Linked DNA regions of Homo sapiens. The protein of the gene in region 1 purifies or fractionates together with the protein of each later gene. This does not show direct contact. Each region holds a gene or a part of one and is shown in the gene's direction. Other genes may lie near its edges.

Region 1 (5,235 bases):
CCCAGCTACTCAGGAGGCTGAGGCAGGAGAATCACTTGAACCCGGGAGGCAGTGGTTGCGGTGAGCTGAGATCACGCCATTGCACTCCAGCCTTGGCGACAAAAGCAAGACTCTGTCTTAAAAAAAAATAACAAAGAAAACACCAAAACTCACCAGATGATTTTGATACCTAATTTTCTCTTCTACCTAAATCTGAATGAAAACCAGAACTAGAAAACATGACTATCAAACTATTAGGAAAGTTTATGTTGACTGCAAAGGAATAGGTCCTTTTTTTTTTTTTTGAGATGGAGTATCGCTCTGTCGCCAGGCTGGAGTGCAGTGGCACAATCTCAGCTCACTGCAACTTCCCACTCCCTGGTTCAAGCAATTCTCCTGCCTCAAACTCCCGAGTAGCTGGGACCACAGGCACATGCCACCATGCGCGGCTAATTTTTGTATTTTTAGTAGAGACTGGGTTTCACCATGTTGGCCAGGCTGGTCTTGATCTCCTGACCTCGTGATCCATCTGCCTTGGCCTCCCAAAGTGCTAGGATTACAGGCATAAGCCACTGCACCTGGCCAGAAACAGGTCTTTTTTAAGGAGTCTGTCAGTGAGGGAGTTAACATAGACTGTAGCTTGGGAAGACAGAGTGGAAATCTTGGCAGGAGATAGCCTAGAGCATCTTAAACTTTAGTGAAGAGAAGAGTGAGAGGAATATCACTTTTTCACCCATCAAAAATGAGTTCCTTCTTTGTAAAAGACATGAGCCATTCTATTACAAAAAGATGAATGATCTTTGCTCTTAATTTCTACTCTGTTAAGAGACACATGCTTGCTAACAAATAGATTTGGTATAGTATGAAGTATTACTGTAAATGAATGTTCAGGGGAACCATTAACACTGATAAGCAGGAAGCCACTCACAAAAGTCAACTTTGAAGTGCTTGATTTTAGGGGGTCAAGTTTTACTTAAATTCTCCTCTCCCTTTTCCTTCTCACTTCTCCCCTCACCCTAATGAATTTTAGTAAATATCATAATATTTTATTCTCTTTCTAGGAAATAAAAACAGCTCATAAATTGGCGAAGAGATGTTATACAAATCCACCACAGTGGGCCAAGTGTCTGTTTAGTCATTGTTACAGTTTATGGTTTATTTGTCTTCCGGCCTATGTTAGAGTTTCTCATCCTAAAGTCAGAGCACTTCAGCAGGCATATGATGTACTTATTAAGATGAGGAAAACAGATGTGGATCCCTTAGATGAGGCAAGTATAACAAATTGACATTGTTTCTAAGGTAAATTTTATTTTTGTACTTCTAATAAAATTTGGGTGTAAGTTGCTTTAAAGTGTGCTCAAGCATTTTCATTAAGCAGGAAAGGTAAAACTATTACTGTTTCATGGAGCTGGTGCATATTACTTGTTTATTTTTTATTTTAATTATTGATTTGTTTTTGTGACAGAGTCTCACTCTGTCACCCAGGCTGGAGTTCAGCAGTGCGTCCTTGGCTCCCTGCAACCTCTGCCTCCCGGGTTCAGACAGTTCTTGTGCCTCCCGAGTAGCTGGAATTACAGGCACATGTTACCATACCTGGCTAATTTTTTTTTTTTTTTTTTTGTATTTTTAATAGAGATGGGGTCTCACCGTGTTGGCCAGGCTGGTCTCAAACTCCTGGCCTCAAGTGATCTGCCTGCCTCAGCTTTCAGTGCTGGGATTACAGGCATGAGCCATCACATCCGGCCATGTTTGTTTATTTTTAAAGAGATGGAGTCTCACTCCTCTCTCGCCCAGGCTGGAGTGCGGTTGTGTGATCATGGCACCTGGCATATGGTTTTTCTGTTTTTGATTTTTTTTTTTTTTTTTTTTAAGGGATGGAGTCTCACTTTGTTTCCCAGGCTGGTCTTGAACTCCTGGCTCTTGAACCCCCACCTTGGCCTCCCAAAGTGCAGGGATTACAGGCATGAGCCACTGTGGCTGGCTTCATTTTATTCTTAATATAACTTTATTGGGGAGCAGATAGGGAATAGGCTTTTAGTAAGTGGCTCTCCACTTAGGACCTGTGTCCTAAGGTGAGTTATATAATCTATTTAAAAATATATTTTTTATTTATATTTAAATATATATATATACTCGTGCCCAAGCTGGAGTGCAGTGGCACTGTCACAGCTCACTGTAGCCTAGAACTTAAGGGCTCAAGTGATTTTCCTGCCTCAGCCTCCTGAGTAGCTGGGACTACAGGTGCACACCACCACGTCTAATTTTTTTAGTTTTATTTTTTGTAGAGATGGGGTCTCGATATGTTACCTGGGCTGGTCTCAAACTCATGGTGTCAAGCCATCCTTCTACTTGGCCTCCCAAAGTGCCAAGATTATAAATATGAGCCACTGCACCTGGCCTATGGAACCTATTTGTGTTTTGGATTATCTATTAGAAAATGTAGCTTTGAACTTCTCAACTTTGGCACTATTGATATTTTGGCCCACACAATTGTTTATTTTAGGGGCCTGTCTTGTACATTGTGTAGGATGTTTAGTAGCATCCCTGGCCTCTACCAACTGTATGCCTCTCTTTCCCTGCACAGATCATGACAATCAAAAATGTTCCCGGAGAGCGAAATTGCTCCTGGAGAACCACTGAGGTAGATAATAATAGTTAGCACCTTCATCATAAGGTTAGTTTGAAGGTTAGTTAAATCAGTTAATATACTTAAAGTGCCTAGTTCATAGTAAGCACTCAGTGAATGATATACTAGACATTTTCATGCATTTTCTCTCTCAAGCCTTAGAAACCATCCTAAGAAGTAGATACTGATATTATCCAGCTAATGGCTGAGGAAACTGAGGCACTTATTTAGCTTTTTCCAATGCTGTTTTTCCCTTTAAAAATTATTTTTGGTGTTAAGATAACTATAAATGATGTTTTGAACTAGATTAGAATTAAAAATGAAAAGTCTTTGCTAATAATGTTACAGTATATTTAACTGTCTTCTCATTCTTTTAAAGACAAATCCTATTTGTTCTGTAGGCATTTTGGAGATACTGTCTTTAATTCCTTTGGCATTGAATGGAAAGCATAGTGATTGGGGAGAGAGAGACTTCAATTATACTTGATTTTATTTATATTTATTTATTTATTTTTTATTTAGAGACAGTTTTACTCTTTTCCTCCAGGCTAGCATGCAGTGGCGCAGTCTTGGCTCACTACAATCTCCGACTCCCGGGTTCCAGCAATTCTACTGCCTCACTCTCCCAAAGTAGCTGGGACTACAAGTGCGTGCCACCACGCCTGGCTAATTTTTGTATATATTTTTTTGTAGAGATGGAGTTTCACTGTGTTGGCCAGGCTGATCTCGAACTCCTGACCTCAGGTGATCTGCCTGCCTGGGCCTCCCAAAATTCTGGGATTACAGGCATGAGCTACTGCTCCCGGCCTCTATCCTTGATTTTAGAAATGAATTACCTCTCAAATTATGAGGAGTAATAGTCTTTCTCTTTGTATAGATTTAGTTACTCAAACAAATGGAACATGGACACATATGTCTTATATGAAATGGTTAATAATGATGATACTTGCATTAATGAATAGGTTTGTTTTTGGGTTTTTTTTTTTTTTTCTTTTTTTTTTGAGACAGAGTCTCACTCTGTTGCCCAGGCTGGAGTGCAGTGGCGTGATCTGGGCTCATTACAACCTCTACCTCCTGGCTTCAAGCGATTCTCGTGCCTCAGCTTCCCAAGTAGCTGGGATTACAGGTATGCACCACCATGCCCATCTAATTTTTGTACTGTTAGTAGAGATGGGGTTTCACCATGTTGGCCAGGTTGGTCTCGAACTCCTGACCTCAGGTGATCCACCCGTCTCAGCCTCCCTAAGTGCTGTGAGGCGTGAGCCACTGTGCCCAGCCTGAATAGGTCTTAAAAATAATTTGCTAAGATGCTCAAAGCAGAACAAAGGAGAAAATACTGCTTAATAACTTCATGGAAAGAATTCAGTAAAATCTCTACAATTCACAGATAGATTAGTATACTAATTACTGACACTGATTTTTTTTTTTTGTTAGGTGTGCTATCGAGTAGTGATGCAGCTTTGTGGACTTTGGGGTCATCCTGTTTTAGCAGTGAGAGTCTTATTTGAAATGAAAACTGCTAGGATAAAGCCTAATGCTATTACTTATGGTTATTATAATAAGGTAAGTAGGATCGACATTAGGCAAGATGTGGTGTTTATTAAGAATGATTATTTTGTATACCTTTAGTTATTCATGAAACTCCTATTAAAGGAAGTTTTGGGATATAATTTTTTAATAATTTTTATAATTATTAAAAATTGACAAAAAGTATATATATTTATCATGTACAATATGATGTTTTGAGATATGTATATTGTGGAATGGCTCAATCGAGCTATTAAATAATTAACATATGCCTTCATTGTTTTGTGGTGAGAACACTTCTAATCTCTTAGAAATTTTCAAAATACAATACATTGTTATTAACTGTAGTCCCCATGTTGTTCAATAGATTTCTTGAATTTATTTCTCCTACTGAACTGAAGTTTTGTATCCTTTGACCAACATCTTCCAGTGTCCCCTTTCCCCTTACCTCCCAAAGCCCCTGGTAACCATACTTCTAGTCTCTGCTTTTATGGGTTTCACTTTCCTGGATCTCATATATATGTGAGATCTTGCGGTATTTGTCTTTCTGTGCCTGGCTTATTTCACTTACCATAATGTCCTCTGGGTTCATTCATATTGTCACAAATTACTGGGTTTCCTTTTTTATTTCAGGCTGAATAGTATCTCGTTGTGTATATATACCACATTTTCTTCATCCATTCATACATTGATAAACACTTAGGTTGATTTCATATGTTGGTTATTGTGAATAATGCTGCAATAAACATGGGAGTACAGATCTCTCTTCAATATACTGATTTCATTTCTTTTGCATATCTATACCCAGTAATAGGATTGCTGGATGATATGGTAGCTCTAGTTTTAATTTTTTGAGGAAACTCTATACTGTTTGTGAGGAATCTTTTTAATGGCTGTACTAATTTGCATTTCCACCAAGACTGTGTAGGGGTTCTTTTGTCCACATCCTTAATCAACATCTTTTGTTTTTTTTGACAATATTCTAACAAGTATGAGGTGATAAGATATCTCATTGTAGTCTTAATTTGCATTTCTCTGATGTTTAGTAATGTTTAGCATTTTTTAATATACCTCTTGGCCAGTATAACTTTTTATATTTGTGT
Region 2 (5,235 bases), about 110 Mb from region 1:
TGTTTCCATATCAAAATATTTGCAGAAATATTGTGTCATGCACAAGACTCCAGAAGAGTTGTAGCATACCCTAGGCCTGATTTACTTAGAGCTAATGATCATGAGCCTGATGGAAGATGAGATAGTACTTCTCCCACCTCTGATTTTTTTTTTTTTTTTTTTTTTTTTTTGAGACAGAGTCTCACTCTGTTGCACAGGCTGGGGTGTAGTCGTGTGATCTCTGCACACTGCAACCTCCACCTCCCGGGTTCAAGTGATTCTCCTGCCTCAGCTTCCCGAGTAGCTGGGATTACAGGCACCCGCCACCAAGCCCAGCTAATTTTTTTCTATTTTTAGTAGAGAACGGGGTTTCACCATTGGCCAGGCTGGTCTCGAACTCCTGGCCTCAAGTGATCTGCCCACCTCAGCCTCCCAAAGTGCTGAGATTAAAGACATGAGCCGCCAGGCCCGGCCCCATCTCTGATTTTTATAGCAATTGGAATACTTAGTTTTATCCACCATTCCTGCAGTGTCCTGAGTGTGTCTTTGTGAGCTTTGCACCAGTACCAAGCAACGGAAGCCCAGCCCTGTGTCCGGGAGCTTGGGAGAAATGTTGTTGCCATCAGAAGCTCTTGAGGAGTCAGTTTAGACTCTAGTAATGCATGCTGTTGTTCTAGAATTCAGGAATTTTACATAAAATGAGAGCTTAGATGGAAATTGAAGGGAGGAAATAAGAGCCACAATCTGATGTCAAATAAACAATCATGAACAAAGCCTCCATCGAGCTTTTTGCGCTTGTAGAAATAGGAACGTCTCCCATTTATTGAACACCAGCTACATGCAGTACATCTAATGTCCATTATCTTGTTTAATCTTCCTGACCGCCCTCCAGAATGTAGACATTGTCCCCATTTTATAGAAGAGGAGATGGAGGCCCAAGGTCACAGAGCACACAAGGGTGGAGCCTCTACTTGAACCTGGCCCGAGAAGCTCCAGAGCCGCCCTCTTCCCATCAAGATGTCACTGAGCTAAGCCATGGGTGGTCCCTAATTCCACAGGCTTTGAGATGAATCTCAGAGGAGTTGTCGGGCTCTTCAAATCAGGTTCTTCTCGTGATTGAGTGATGGAGGCTGTGGCTTTATTGACCATGAAAACTCCCTATATTTTTATGCCTTAAGCTGTAAAATGCGTTGAAAATGAAACACTCTATAGTGCATAAAATTGTGCCAGTTTTAAGCCACAGCATATTAACCAGCTAATGGCAGAGCAAAGGGCGTTTTTATCTTTTGATTATTACATTAATCTTCCATTAACATTATCTATGTGATTATCACAAAGCACTGAAGATAATAAATTTGGGAAATAGTTGGCTTGTTAAGGATCATTTTAAAATGCTTTTGTCAAGTTATATGTGCCAAAAATACACTGAAAACACTAGGTTGGCTGAGTGTGCAAACAATATAATCCAAAGATTTCTTGTATTAAGAATGATAAAACCTCTTATTTCCATACACTGTATTGTCCCAAATCATCAACCTGGCCCTGCGGTCCTCATGATTTATTGCTCTCAGCTGGTAACTTGGCGAGGCAGCGGGCAGAGCGTGTCAGGCCTTCTGTACTCACGCACCAGCCTTTAACGCCTGCTGCTCCAACCAGCAGAGCAGAAAGTTGGGAGGGACAGTGTTGAAGCCTCGGCCATCTGAGGCGTTGCCATCTCGCGCTGCCTCCCCCGGGAGCCCTCTGGTTCCTTCTCGGAGTCAGCAGAAGCTCCTCTCCCTCTGGCACAGGACACATGGCCCTCGGAGTAGAATCAGCAGAGGCAGTGGCTGGCCTCTCTTGTCAGAAATATTCAGCCTTCTAGTCAAAACTTTTAGATACTTGCAGGTGAAGAGAAATAGCGTCTGTTCACCAAAAGCCCCAGCCAGAGGAGCAGAGGAGGTGAGAGGCTGCGGAGCAGGAAGGGGTGTTTGCCAAGCGCCTGACACCTTCTAGCTTTGTGACCTTGACTAAATGACATTATTGTCATTGGCCTTGACTTCCTCACCTGTGCATGGGGATGACAGTGGCATCTGTCTCAAGATTATTGTGAAGATTCCATGAGCGCTGAAAGGCACTCCGAGCAGTGCCAGTTGCCACCACTGATTTCACACTGCTGCTGCCGCCCATGCCCAGGCACAGGCTGTCCTCAGCACTGGGGCGTGTGCATCCCACTGTAGCACCCCTCCCTGGCTCCCACCACCTCATTTCACTAAGCCAGCCAAGCTCTCGCAGTTCCAGGGACACTCCCTTGTGGCGTGCCCCTGCTGTGCCTTGATGCATGCTGCGTCTCTCCTCCCCGTTGCGCACTCAAAAACTCCTGTGTATCCCTCAAAAGCCCGCTCACTCTTTTCCTCTGGAAGCCTTCCCTCCTCCACACCTCCCTGATACTCAGCCCCATTCCTTGATGCTCCTCTTTGCCTGCTGCAGTGCTGGTTCTGCTGCTGGACACCCACTCACCAGGCAGCAAGCTCCCCAGGGCCAGGACCAAGTCTCAGCGCTGTAGCGCTGGGGAAGCGCCTGGCGGTGCAGCTGCTACACAGAGTGGAAGATGCACATGCGACTCCGGGCAGACTCCCAGGGCTTCGTGGAAGCAGCAGCGTGCAGAAGGCCTGAGAGGAGCCCAGGAGGCAGCCCCGCCCTTCACACAGGGCTCTTTCAGCCCCCTCACAGCTCTCACCCTGACTTCCACGTGGCCTAGGCCACTTTGGCCTCCCTCTCTGAGCCTCTTTCCTTTTTGTCAAGTGAGCCCTGCCTGGCTGGGCACTCATGAGCCCTGAAGGAAGCACTGTGGTGGGAAGCTCTGCGCCTGGCTGGTGGGAGGCTGGATGGAGAGCCTGTCTTGGTTTGCTTTTCATCCCTGTGTTCTCGGCCTTCACACAGGGAAAGGCAGGCTCAGAGAGGTTATGTGCTTGTCCAGGTCACACAGCAGGTGGGAGGCATAGCCAGGCAGCCCAGGGCACAGCCTTCCGGGAGTGGCTCACGCCAGGAGGGAGCATGGGCTCCGGAACCTGAAGAGCTCGCCGCTCACTGACTGGGAAGCCTGGACTGGCCACTTGGCTTCTCCAAGCCTCTGTTTTCCCATCGTAGAGCAGCGGCTCTGGGCCCAGCCGCTGCCAGGTTGCTGTGATGACTGGACTCCTTCCACACGACAGCACCTGGCCCTGAGGCACCCGGCCCAGGTCAGGGCCTTCCCTGCCACCCCCTCCGATGCCCTGGGTGGGTAGGGAGCGGCTGGCAAGGTGACCGGGCTGTGTGCTCTTGTTTCTAGGTTAACTACATCCTGGAATCGCGAGCTAGCACTGCCCGGGCTGACTACTTTGCTCAAAAACAAAGAAAACTGAACAGACGTACGAGCTTCAGCTTCCAGAAGGAGAAGAAATCCGGGCAGCAGTGACACTGGCCTCCAGCCTCAATCTGTTCCGTAGCTCAGAGCCTGCCTGCCAGGGCCAAGTGCCCTAGAGTCCACCCGGTGTCCTGAAGTCCTCGGGGGGAGGCCAGCCCCTGGCTCACTGGCACAGGGCAGGTGGGCTCTCGGGGAAGGTGTCGGGGGCCCCCTAGGAGGGAGCGCTGGGGACATTGCCATGGGACGGAAGTCTGCTTGGCAGTGGCTTTGATAAGCGATGCTTGGGGGTCAGACCACCCCCTAGAGGAGCCACGTGCCGCCCAGCCACCTTCAATGCCTGCCACCCTGCCCGAGGATGTACAGAGCCGTGCCCACACATTTCCTTGCAACTTGATCAAATTTCTTAAAGCAAACAACAAAAATGTACATTTCTGTTTTTCCTTTTAATAAACAGGTGTACTCTTTATCATGGTTGGTATGATGGACCATTCTTTGGGGCGGAGGATTGATTATGTTACTCTCTTTAAAATCTGTTCCCATATTGAACAGGCAGATTGGAAAAGCTATGGTTCGATTTCTCAGAAGAAATGTTTAGGTCTTAGTCAATAGTTTTAACTATGCCATTTGTTTAAATGAGTGCATTTGCTTCGAGGGTAGTGTCTTACTAAAAGTTAGGAACAGAGACCTAGTGGTGTGTCCAAGGCCGTGTCACTTTCCCCTTCAGCACACCCCAGCTTCTGACCTCAGAGCCCAGGAGCTGCGTGGACAGTGTGGGGTGCCAGGAGGAGGGGCGGTGGCTGGTCCTCAGGCACGCTGCACTCCCAGCCAGACATGGTCTTTCCGTTTCTTAAGTAGCAAGTGTAGGTTTCAGCTGGCAGTTCCACCTGCATGTTCTCTGCTTCGCTGCCTTGGAAGGGGCCACATTCCCCATTCCTCTTCTCCTTACAGCGCCTGCCTCCTTTTTCAAGCAGGCGGAAAGCTGCTGTTTCTCACGTTTCAGGGAGAGGGGTGAGCGGAGGGAGACCTGTGTCCGTGCCGTCCGGCTCCCTGGGTGGGAACAGGCAAGGGATCAGATGCCCCTGACACCACGCCTCTGGCCACACCAGATGCCTCTGCAGTCCTCGACAGCCTCTTCAGTGTCCCTCCTGCGGTGATGTCCTTACTGTCCCCAGCCAGGGCCGGGGACCGGTGTTTCACTGAGGACCTGCATTAGAAACATTTTTTAAATTGTTGTACAGGAAGAGATGTGTCTAAAACAGCATCTTAAAGCTGAGTGTATTTCTTTGCACAAGGGGTCATGCTGATGAATTCTTCTTTCATTCTGATCTTTGTTCAGCCAACAGGAGCGTCCTTTTCTAATGTCTTCCATTCCTACCCCCCACCCAAAAACAAAAGAAATATTTGTAGCTTGCTATCTGTATTTGAATTTTTAGCAATTTTATATTTAGATACTTTGAAAAATGTAAATGACTAATTTGGTCATTAAATCTTGTGACATATTCGATATTAAAATGATATTAAAATAAAAGTCATATAAATACACACTTTTGCATATTGTGTTGAGTTTCTGAAGTCTGGAGTATGTGATGCCGAAAACCATGACTCTGCCATGAGCCTCCTGGGTGGTGGCATTTGCCAGCAGTTGACGAGGAAGCAACATCTCTGAAATGCACCGGGGCCTCTTTGGTGCTAAGCACGACAGGCTGGCCCTCTTCACTCAGGGGTGACACCAAAGTCATCACCTCCTTCAGCCACAAAATCAACACCCTTCTCTTACTGTGAAATGCAACACTCTCAGTTTACATAAACACATGTGTCCAGGTGAAGGAACAGTGGAAAGGGAACACAGCAGCCACCGCCCAGGCCCAGCACGG
Region 3 (5,235 bases), on another chromosome or scaffold:
GCCATGCGCGGGAGGGCCAAGGCATTAAGACTGACCTTCCACAGTACATCATTGGGCAGCTGGGCCTGGCCAAGGACCCCCTGGAGGGTAAGCCGGGATGGGAAGAGGAAACCAAGGCTGGGAAAGGCCGGATGGAGGCCAGGCACGGTGGCTCACACCTTTAATACCAGCACTTTGGGAAGCTAAGGCGGGCAGATCACTTGAGGCCAGGAGTTCGAGACCAGCCTGGCCAACATGGTGGAAACCCCCCCCCTACTAAAAATACAAAAATTAGCTAAGTGTGGTGGCGCATGCCTGTAATCCCAGCTACTCAGGAGGCTGAGGCACAAGAATTGCTTGAACTCAGGAGATGGAGGTTGCAGTGAGCTGAGATCGCGCCACTGCACTCCAACCTGGGCGACAGAGCGAGACCCTGTCTCAAAAAAACAAAAAAAGAAAGGGCAGATGAAGCCAGGATTCAAACCCAGGCCCATCCGATTCCAGAACCACCGCACTGTTCTTTGTCTCTCTGTGGCCTTGCTCTTAGGTCACCTGTGGGAATTATGCTGAGACCCTCTGATCTTTTGGGGCCCAGGGGCCTCAGTGTCCTCAAATGCCACGTTAAGATGGTCAGGAAGCCTGGGGACCAGTGTTAGCAGTGGCCTTCCCTTTGTCCTGCAAATTCACAAATGACTTTACCAATTTCTGTGGCCTTTACTGTGGCCCAGAAAGTGAACTTGGAGTCAAACAGGACAACCCGTAGGTAAGAAGACGGTCAAAAACTCCCACAGCCGGCCGGGTGCGGTGGCTCACGCCTGTAATCCCAGCACTTTTGGGAGGCCGAGGTGGGTGGATCACAAGGTCAGGAGTTCAAGACCAGCCAGGACAACATGGTGAAACCCCATCTCTACTAAAGATACAAAAATTAGCCGGGTGTGGTGGCGTGTGCCTGTAATCCCAGCTACTCGGGAGGCTGAGGCAGGAGAATCATTTGAACCCTGGAGGCGGAGGTTGCAGTGAGCCGAGATCACACCACTTCATTCCAGCCTGGGCAACAGGGCAAGACTCTGTCTCAAAAAAAAAAACAAACAACTCCCACAGCCAGCCAGGTGCAGTGGCTCACGCCTGTAATCCCATAATCCCAGCACTTTGTGAGACTGAGGCGGGTGGATCACTTGAGGTCAGGAATTCAAGACTAGCCTGGCCAATATGCAGAAACTCCATCTCTACTAAAAACAAATATTAGCCGGGTGTGGTGGCATGTGCCTGTAGATCCCAGCTACTTGGGAGGCTGAGGCAGGAGAATCGCTTGAACTCAGGAGGCAGAGGTTGCAGTGAGCCGAGATCACGCCACTGTGCTCTAGCCTGGGTGAAAGAGTGAGCCTACATTTCAAAAAAAAAAAGATGTAGCTGGGTGTAGTAGTGCGCGCCTGTAGTCCCAGCTACTCAGGAGGCTAAGGTGGGAAGATCGCTTGAGCTTGGCAGGTTGAGACTGCAGTGAGCTATGATCACACCACTGTCCTCCAGCCTGGGTGACAAAGCCAGACCCTGTCTCAAAAAGAGAAAAAAAAAAATTTCCACAAATAGCCAGGATAAGAGGAACTGAAAGCTGGAGCATTGAACTTGGACCTAGCCTGGTCCAGCAGTAGCCAGGGGGAGGCTCTGGGAGGAGGCAGTGTTCAAACTGAGGCCTGGAGGGCAGGAGGTGACCAGGTTGCAGATCCAAAGGAAAGAGTGAAACAGGCAGCATAGGCATAGACCCTAAGGTTGGACCATACCTGGAGTGGGACTGACCTGCCACTGTCCCCATTGAAAGCTGGGGAGGCCCGGCATGGTAGCTCACACTTGTAATCCCAGCACTGTGGGAGGCCAAGGCAGGAGGATCACTTGAAGCCAGGAGTTTGAGACCAGCTTGGGCAACATACTGAGATCTCGTCTCTATTAAAAAAACAATTAGCCAGGCATGATCGCACATGCCTATAGTCCTAGCTACTTGCGGGGCTGAAGTGGGAAGACTGCTTGAGCCCAGGGGTTTGAGGCTGCAGTGAGCTATGGTCGCACAACTGCACTCCAGCCTGGGTGACATAGCAAGACCCCATCTCTACAAAAAGTAATTTTTTTTTTTCTTTTTTGAGACAGAGTCTCGCTCTCTCGCCCAGGCTGGAGTGCAGTGGCACGATCTTGGCTCACTGCAAGCTCCGCCTCCTGGGTTCACGCCATTCTCCTGCCTCAGCCTCCCGAGTAGCTGGGACTACAGGCGCCCGCCACCACGCCCGGCTAATTTTTTGTATTTTTAGTAGAGGCGGGGTTTCACTGTGTTAGCCAGGATGGTCTCGATCTCCTGACCTCATGATCCGCCCGCCTCTGCCTCCCAAAGTGCTGGGATTACAGGCGTGAGCCACCGCGCCTGGCCTACAAAAAGTATTTTTAAAAATTAGCCAGGCGTGGCGGTGAATGCCTGTAGTCCCACCTACTTGAGAGGCTGAGGTGGGAGGATTGCTTGAGTTTAGGAGACTGAAGCTGCAGTGAGCCATGATGGCACCACTGCACTCCAGCCTGGGTGACAGAGCAAGAGCCTGTCTCTGAAATAATCATACTTGGCCGGGTGCGGTGGCTCACGCCTGTAATCCCAGCACTTTGGGAGGCCAAGGCGGGCAGATCACCTGAGGTCAGGAGTTTGAGACGAGCCTGGCCAACATGGTGAAACCCTGTCTCTACTAAAAATACAAAAATTAGGCTGGGCGTAGTGGCTTATACCTGTAATCCCAGCACTTTGGGAGGCCGAGGCAGGCGGATTACCTGAGGTCAGGAGTTCAAGACCAGCCTGGCCAATGTGGTGAAACCCCATCTCTACTAAAAATACAAAAGTTAGCCAGGTGTGGTGGCAGGCGCCTGTAATCCCAGCCACTCGGGAGGCTGAGGCAGGAGAATCTCTTCAACTCAGGTGGTGGAGGTTGCAGTGAGCCAAGATCTCGCCACTGCACTCCAGCCTGGGCGACAGAGTGAGACTGCGTCTCAAAAAATAAAAATACAAATACAAAAATTAGCTGGGCATGGTGGCACACGCCTGTAATCCCGTCTACTTGGGAGGCTGAGACAGGAGAAGCACTTGAACCCAAGAGGTGGAGGTTGCAGTGAGCTGAGATCACACCACTGCACTCCAGCCTGGGTGACAGAGCGAGACTCCATGTCAAATAAATAAATTAAATAATCATACTAATAAAAAATAAAGCTGAGGAAACTGAGGCTCCAGGCAGATAAGGCTGAGCAGGGAATCAAACCCAGGTGTACCTAAGGCCAGATCACATGTGGTCTGTGGCTGGACCATGTTTGCCAGGCATTCGCTAGGGGCTGCCCCTCTGCCAAGGCCTGGGGCAAGAACATATTGGACCCTCCACCTGGGCTGCACCCTGAGCTGAGGAAGATGTTAGGAGCTGACACCCAGGGGGCCTGTGTCTCATCCCGTCTTCACAGGCTCAAGGCTCAGAGCCTAAGTTTGATCATGACTGAGCACTTCAGAGCCAGGGCAGCCCACTGGCCCTTCTAGAAGGTTCCTAAGTCATTGCTTCATCCAGCCTCCCGGATGTGGCTTCATGACAGTGTCATGAGAGCTGGTCAGGGGAGGCACTGCATCCCCAGCCTGGGGTGAGAACTCTAGAGGCCTCAGGAAATTGCTGGGTGATGCAGGGTGAGGCAGGGAGGCTCCAGCTGAGCCTCCTCCCTCATCTTGCAGAGATGGTGCCACTGAGTCACCTCGAAGAAGAACAGCCCCCAGCACCTGAGTCCCCAGAGGTGAGTAGCAGAGGCTGGGGGACCCCCGCTCATCTTGTTCTTTCCAGAGTGGACCAGGCACCCGCAGAAAGGGCTGGGTTTGCCGAGGTCTTGCATGTAGCTTAATTAGCATCGGTGACTTTGGAGGCAAGGTGACGGCACGTGGGACTGCCCTGCCTTGGAAGTCGGGTGGGGGCAGTGCTGGAGGGGCACTGGACAGGTGAGTTTTGCAGGACGTGTAAGAATTTCCCAGGAGGAGGGCACAGCTGTGAGCAAAAAAGTACAGAAAGTCAGAAGCTGAGTTGGAGAAGTTTGGACAGGGGAGGAGGTAGCATCGGGCACCAGGACCAGTGGTTTGGGCTTGGGGGCAGGAGAAGCCTTCCCAGCTCTGCAGCGGGGCAGGACCCTAAGCCCTTCCCATCCCCTAGAGCCGCGCCCTGGTCGGCCAGTCACGGAGGAAGCCATGCGAAAGCGACTTTGAGACCATCAAACTCATTAGCAACGGAGCCTATGGGTGAGTCCCTGAGTCCTGCATAGACCCATTTCACAGATGCCTGAGGGGATGGTTGAGGCCCAGGCAGCTCCTGCATCCCCCTCCTACCCCAGCAGGGCTCACACATTCATCCTTGAATGGGCAGAGAAGGCACCTGAGGACTGGAGGGGGAAGTGGAGACACGCCATAGCGAGGTTACAGCCTCATGTGTGCTCTGTCCACGAGCCAGGCCTTTACCTGCCCCAGGTGTAGGGCGTTCTAGGGGCTTGGGGGCTGATCAAGGAAATAGATGCCCACCCAGTGGGAGTAGCACGCAGTGAGCTTTATTTAGGTGCTGCTTTGAATGGCAGGCTTGCATACAAGGGAAGTCCCTCATAGCATAAGCCTTTTGGAGGCTGAGGTTCCAGGAGTCACCATCAAGAGGGAGAGGCCGGCAAGGGAACTCCCCGGGCAGAGGGGGATCAGAGAGGGGGCTTACATGTCTAGGTGATGTTGTTCAACAGCATGGGCACTCAATCTCTGGGTCAGAGACTCCCTGCAGGGTGGTAGCAGCTTAGGGTCTTGAAATCCACAAAGTTCATCTTATCCATGGCTCAGAGATGGTGCAGTTTCACGAGTCTGCAAAGCAGACAGGCTCTCAGTGGCTAAAATTTTGCTTACTTGGTCTGTGTGTAAAACAAACGGATGTGTAAAACTTTGAGTTTGGTGCTAGCGGTCTTTTAAAAGAGCTAGACCAGGTGCGGAGGCACTTTGGGAGGCCAAGGTAGGAGGATCGCTTGAGGCCAGGAGTTCGAGACCAGCCTGGGCAACATGGCAAAACTCCATCAATACTAAAAATAGAATAATTAACTGGGCGTAATGGCACATGCCTGTAATTCCAGCTACTTGGGAGGCTGAAGTTGGAGGATCACCTGAACCCAGGAGGCAGAGGTTGCAGTGAGCCGAGATCACCCCACTGCACTCCAGCCTGGGTGACACAGTGAGACCATCTC
Region 4 (5,235 bases), on another chromosome or scaffold:
GACCTCTGGGACCTTCTCTCTGTCCCCATCAGGGGCACAATTCCCCCTATGAGCAAGAGAACACCCAGGAAGTTCCCATAGCCTACAACATCAGCAAGCTAGAAGATTCTGTTCTTTCTCTTGGTCCTAATTTCCTTTCTTTCTTTCTTTCTTTTGAGATGGAGTCTCACTCTGTTGCCAGGCTGGAGTGCAGTGGCTCGATCTCAGCTCACTGCAACCTCTGCCTCCACGGTCCTAATTTCTAGGCAACTCTTCTGTCCGTATTCTATGAATCAAGTGAAGTGTTATAGAGGGTGGCTTAATTAAAGTAAATCCCCCGCCTCCAGCTCTCTCTGTCTCAGAAGTCTCAATCCAGTCCTCCCCCATCCCAGTAGTGGAGTCCTAATGTCCCTCTACCTGGATCTGCTTTTTTCTAGCTTCGAAGTTCCTTCAACAAAGCGTTCAGTATAAAAAAGGGGCCCAAGTCAGCTTCCTCATACTCGGATATAGAGGAGATTGCTACACCCGACTCTTCAGCCCCCTCATCCCCCAAACTACAGCATGGTTCTACAGAGACTGCTTCACCCTCCATCAAGTCCTCCACCTCGTCCTCCGTGGGCACTGATGTCACCGAGTAAGTGCTCTTTGGCTCCCTGCCACCCAGCCTGTTACCAGTGTAAGCTGTGGGCTAGAGTTGACAGGAGGCCATTAGACCTTAGACAAGCAGTACTTATTACTGACCTCTCCCTGGGCATATGAGACCAACAGATGGACCTTTCTTCTCATGCTGATTGAATATCAATGGGCAGGAGAAGCCAAGACCACCAACCATGCCTCTCAATATTCTCTAGTAACTCTAGTGCTTCTTCATGTAGCCTGGCTTGACTCTTGCTATCTTACAGGGGCCCTGCTCACCCAGCCCCCCACACTAGGCTGTTCCATGCAAATGAGGAGGAGGAGCCAGAGAAGAAGGAGGTATCGGAGCTGCGCTCTGAGCTATGGGAGAAGGAAATGAAGCTTACAGACATCCGCTTGGAGGCCCTCAACTCTGCCCACCAACTGGATCAGCTTCGGGAGACCATGCACAACATGCAGGTCAGTGTCTGGGCGGACAGCTGCAGGAAAGGGAAGACCAAGGCTTGCTGTCTGTCCAGTCTGCCACCCTACCCTGTCTGTTCTTGCCACAGTTGGAGGTGGACCTGCTGAAAGCAGAGAATGACCGACTGAAGGTAGCCCCAGGCCCCTCATCAGGCTCCACTCCAGGGCAGGTCCCTGGATCATCTGCATTATCTTCCCCACGCCGCTCCCTAGGCCTGGCACTCACCCATTCCTTCGGCCCCAGTCTTGCAGACACAGGTACCTGTGTGGGAGAAGAATCTATAAGGGTGAAGGGAAGAAAAGGGCTTATTTCACTGTTACACCATTCCACTTGCTTTGGTCAGGGCGGTAACAATGCCGAAGCCAAGCAGATGCCAGTGTCCTAAGACACTGAGTTGTAATGGTCCTTCAACCTTAACTACTTTTGAGTTTGGGACCTCCATTCCTTCTCTGTGGCAAACAGAGTTATTTTGGAAAGGATAATGATGGGAAAGTTTAGGAAAGGCTGCGGGTACTCCTAAAACCAGTTGGTTCTTTTCAATCCCCACAGACCTGTCACCCATGGATGGCATCAGTACTTGTGGTCCAAAGGAGGAAGTGACCCTCCGGGTGGTGGTGAGGATGCCCCCGCAGCACATCATCAAAGGGGTAAGGAACTTCAGGGAGAGCCACAGTGGGAATGAACAAATACTGTTACATTTATCCAAGAAAATCTGGACCCTGGGTACCTCCAAAACCAAAGAACTCAACTCCTAAGGCCTTTAGGACCCCGGTTCATGGAGTCATCTGCAGTGAAGCTCAAGAGCTTTTCCTTCCTTGGCCTTACAGGACTTGAAGCAGCAGGAATTCTTCCTGGGCTGTAGCAAGGTCAGTGGAAAAGTTGACTGGAAGATGCTGGATGAAGCTGTTTTCCAAGTGTTCAAGGTAAAGGGATACCTGTACTCAAAAAGGTTGTTCATCCTCTCGTGGAATATATATACTTTTTTAGAGACAGGGTCTCACTCTTGCCACCCAGGCTGGAGGGCAGTGGCGTGATCACAGCTCACTGCAGCCTTGAACTCTTGGGCTTAAGTAATTCTCCTGTCGCAGCCTCCTGAGTAGCTGGGATTACAAGCATGTGCCACCATGCATGGCTTCTCACAGGATATTAAACCGTCCAGGCACTGGGATCCTGGGGACCTTTGAGGCTTTATGGAGAAATGCTACCTAGGAAAAGCATATGCTCTGCACTTTCTCCATCTATTTCTGTTTCCTCTGATAGACATTCTTTGTTGTGGCTTTTACACCTGTGTTTGTATATTTTCTTCTTCTTCTGCCTGTCTTTTCTGTCAGGACTATATTTCTAAAATGGACCCAGCCTCTACCCTGGGACTAAGCACTGAGTCCATCCATGGCTACAGCATCAGCCACGTGAAACGAGTGTTGGATGCAGAGCCCCCCGAGATGCCTCCTTGCCGTCGAGGTGTCAATAACATATCAGTCTCCCTCAAAGGTCAGTCTTTGTCTCTTGGGGTGAGGTGGTGTGGCATGAAGGCAGGGACAGGATCATCAAATAATCCATCATGCATTCATTCACCAAGAACTCACTGAGAAGGTATAATATGAAGATGCTTAAGTAATGTGAGATATAAAAAGATGAGTAAGACCCAGTCCTAACTTTGGCTCCCAGGGACACTTTTGCTAAGCCTTGGCTTCTTGCTTCACTCCTCACCCCCAGCTCACAGCATGTCCCTAAAAAGAAGATCTAAGTTTTCAAAACTAGGGGTTAAGGGACTCTTATGGAACCATGGGGCAAGTGGCTCTGAGTTTCTTCAGGGGGCTCCTAGATAAAGAAAGAAAAGCCCTTTAGGATCCCTTGCTATCCTCAAGACCCTGGTCAATACTCATGCTTTCTGGGGTGGGGGTTCAGGTCTGAAGGAGAAATGCGTCGACAGCCTGGTGTTCGAGACGCTGATCCCCAAGCCGATGATGCAGCACTACATAAGCCTCCTGCTGAAGCACCGGCGCCTCGTCCTCTCGGGCCCCAGCGGCACGGGCAAGACCTACCTGACCAATCGCTTGGCCGAGTACCTGGTGGAGCGCTCTGGCCGTGAGGTCACAGAGGGCATCGTCAGCACCTTCAACATGCACCAGCAGTCTTGCAAGGTGGCTGCCCCCCGACACCCCTGCCAGCCTTTGTTCATGCCTCAGCCTTCCCTAAGACCCTTCCTCGGCCCCTTCCTGCCTCATTGTTCCCTTTTCCTCACCTCTGCCTTCATCTTTCTTCTCTTCTGTGTTCATTTCCTTCCCTCTCTATCTATCCCCTTTTCCAGTCTTCTCCTTTCCCTCCCCACGATTTCTTTCCAGCCTCTTGCCTTTAACTTGTTTCTCCACACTTTCCCTTGCCTTTATGGAGAAAGGCTTTCCTCTCCACACTTTTCCTTGCTTTGTGCACCTTCCTCCTCAGTTGGTCATTGATGAAACTGCATTCTCCTCATTTCTACCCCACTGTCTGCCAACCCTGTCAATCCCATCCCTTCTCTTTTGTTCTCTTCCTTCTACTTTTCTTTTCAGTATTACTCTCTGACCTTGGGCTATCTGGGAAGAAGCACTCAGAATTAAATGGTACATATTACACCCTCCCCTGCCAAAACCTGATGATGTCTCTTGAGTACCCTAATACAATGGAGTTGGTTCAGATCTTTGCTCTTCCCAGCTCGGGGAGGCATGCCCATTAGTAGTAGTCCATGGTACCAGTGAAAATCCATCTAGGAAATAGCATATGTTCCCCAACTTTGGGGAATTTAGGGGCTGCTGCTTAAGAGGGTTGCTTTAGAGCCTTTGCAACCACTGCTTATCACTCTGTGGTAATCTGCTGTAATCAAATTTGCAAGGAACTAAAGGCCCCAGGGGAATCTAGATCTAGTAAGACTTCTTCAAAATCCTGATTTCCAAGGCCGATCCAGCTGCTTATTCCCAAGTGCTGACCCACAGCCTTCTTTTATTCCAGGATCTGCAACTGTATCTTTCCAACCTAGCCAACCAGATAGACCGGGAAACAGGAATTGGGGATGTGCCCCTGGTGATTCTATTGGATGACCTGAGTGAAGCAGGCTCCATCAGTGAGTTGGTCAATGGGGCCCTCACCTGCAAGTATCATAAATGGTAAGTAAGCTGGGATCAAGACAAAATTCATCGAAGTGGGAGGAGGGAGAACCCAGTCCAGGACAACCTATGAGTTGTGTGCATGTGGCAGAAAGCAAGTGTGAAGGCAAGTCTAAGTGAATCTTTTTCCCCTTTCTCCCTACAGTCCCTATATTATAGGTACCACCAATCAGCCTGTAAAAATGACACCCAACCATGGCTTGCACTTGAGCTTCAGGTAAGACCTCTAGCTCTGGATGAACCTTCTGACCCTACCCAAGAGTCTTCAATCCTGGACTCTGGCCAGGAGGCAGTAGATAGGAGAAGGAAAGAGAAGTATCCAGAGCTTTTTGGGCTGGAAATAGAAAGTAGATGTATTTGTCATGTCAGTTACAAGGTGGAGGAGGACACTTGAGGAGAGAAAAGGCCTGCTAAGCTAAGAGAGAGCCAGGTAGGTTGCTCTAAGCAGAATTAGGATTCTCTGCCCGCACACGCTGATCTGGGTCAGTGATGTCAGAAGGTTATCCGAAGAGGGCTACCAATTTGAGAATCAGCTCTACCACCCCAGGGCTGCTGCTCTGAGTTCCGATGTCCCCACTATTACTTGAAAAGAAACCAAGTAGGCATTAGTGAGAAGCAGGCAGAAGGAGGGACAGACTGGCAGGGGCTGAACCCTGACAATGTCCCCATTGCCACTCTGACCCCACTTTCCCCATCCTTGGTGGCAGGATGTTGACCTTCTCCAACAACGTGGAGCCAGCCAATGGCTTCCTGGTTCGTTACCTGAGGAGGAAGCTGGTAGAGTCAGACAGCGACATCAATGCCAACAAGGAAGAGCTGCTTCGGGTGCTCGACTGGGTACCCAAGCTGTGGTATCATCTCCACACCTTCCTTGAGAAGCACAGCACCTCAGACTTCCTCATCGGTACTGGGGTCCAGCTTCCCCCGGGGGTCAGGAGGTGGCTTCCCTTTTCCACTGTACCACCTGGAGGGATGCTCCCTTCTCTTCCTGGAGTCTTCGGCATGTAAAGGAGC

The links. Proteins that work in one complex are often made in the same cells at the same time.
Region 2: the proteins of DENND4C (region 1) and MAPKAP1 purify together in Homo sapiens (affinity purification with mass spectrometry, with the first as the bait; one large-scale study listed by BioGRID). This does not show direct contact.
Region 3: the proteins of DENND4C (region 1) and MAST3 purify together in Homo sapiens (affinity purification with mass spectrometry, with the first as the bait; one large-scale study listed by BioGRID). This does not show direct contact.
Region 4: the proteins of DENND4C (region 1) and NAV1 purify together in Homo sapiens (affinity purification with mass spectrometry, with the first as the bait; one large-scale study listed by BioGRID). This does not show direct contact.

What each region holds. Positions count from the first base shown.
Region 1 is NC_000009.12:19,330,938-19,336,172, forward strand, and holds part of DENND4C (DENN domain-containing protein 4C), read left to right. Parts: intron 1-1,040; coding exon 1,041-1,247; intron 1,248-3,613; exon of another isoform or gene 3,614-3,731; intron 3,732-4,039; coding exon 4,040-4,168; intron 4,169-5,235. UniProt on the Homo sapiens protein: Guanine nucleotide exchange factor (GEF) activating RAB10. Promotes the exchange of GDP to GTP, converting inactive GDP-bound RAB10 into its active GTP-bound form.
Region 2 is NC_000009.12:125,437,064-125,442,298, reverse strand, and holds the end of MAPKAP1 (target of rapamycin complex 2 subunit MAPKAP1), read left to right. Parts: intron 1-3,286; coding exon 3,287-3,412; 3' UTR 3,413-4,905; downstream 4,906-5,235. UniProt on the Homo sapiens protein: Component of the mechanistic target of rapamycin complex 2 (mTORC2), which transduces signals from growth factors to pathways involved in proliferation, cytoskeletal organization, lipogenesis and anabolic output.
Region 3 is NC_000019.10:18,124,688-18,129,922, forward strand, and holds part of MAST3 (microtubule-associated serine/threonine-protein kinase 3), read left to right. Parts: coding exon 1-87; intron 88-3,712; coding exon 3,713-3,771; intron 3,772-4,178; coding exon 4,179-4,264; intron 4,265-5,235.
Region 4 is NC_000001.11:201,807,537-201,812,771, forward strand, and holds part of NAV1 (neuron navigator 1), read left to right. Parts: intron 1-416; coding exon 417-613; intron 614-881; coding exon 882-1,074; exon of another isoform or gene 1,075-1,166; coding exon 1,167-1,335; intron 1,336-1,627; coding exon 1,628-1,725; intron 1,726-1,905; coding exon 1,906-2,001; intron 2,002-2,409; coding exon 2,410-2,569; intron 2,570-2,986; coding exon 2,987-3,222; intron 3,223-4,066; coding exon 4,067-4,221; intron 4,222-4,366; coding exon 4,367-4,438; intron 4,439-4,928; coding exon 4,929-5,125; intron 5,126-5,235. UniProt on the Homo sapiens protein: May be involved in neuronal migration.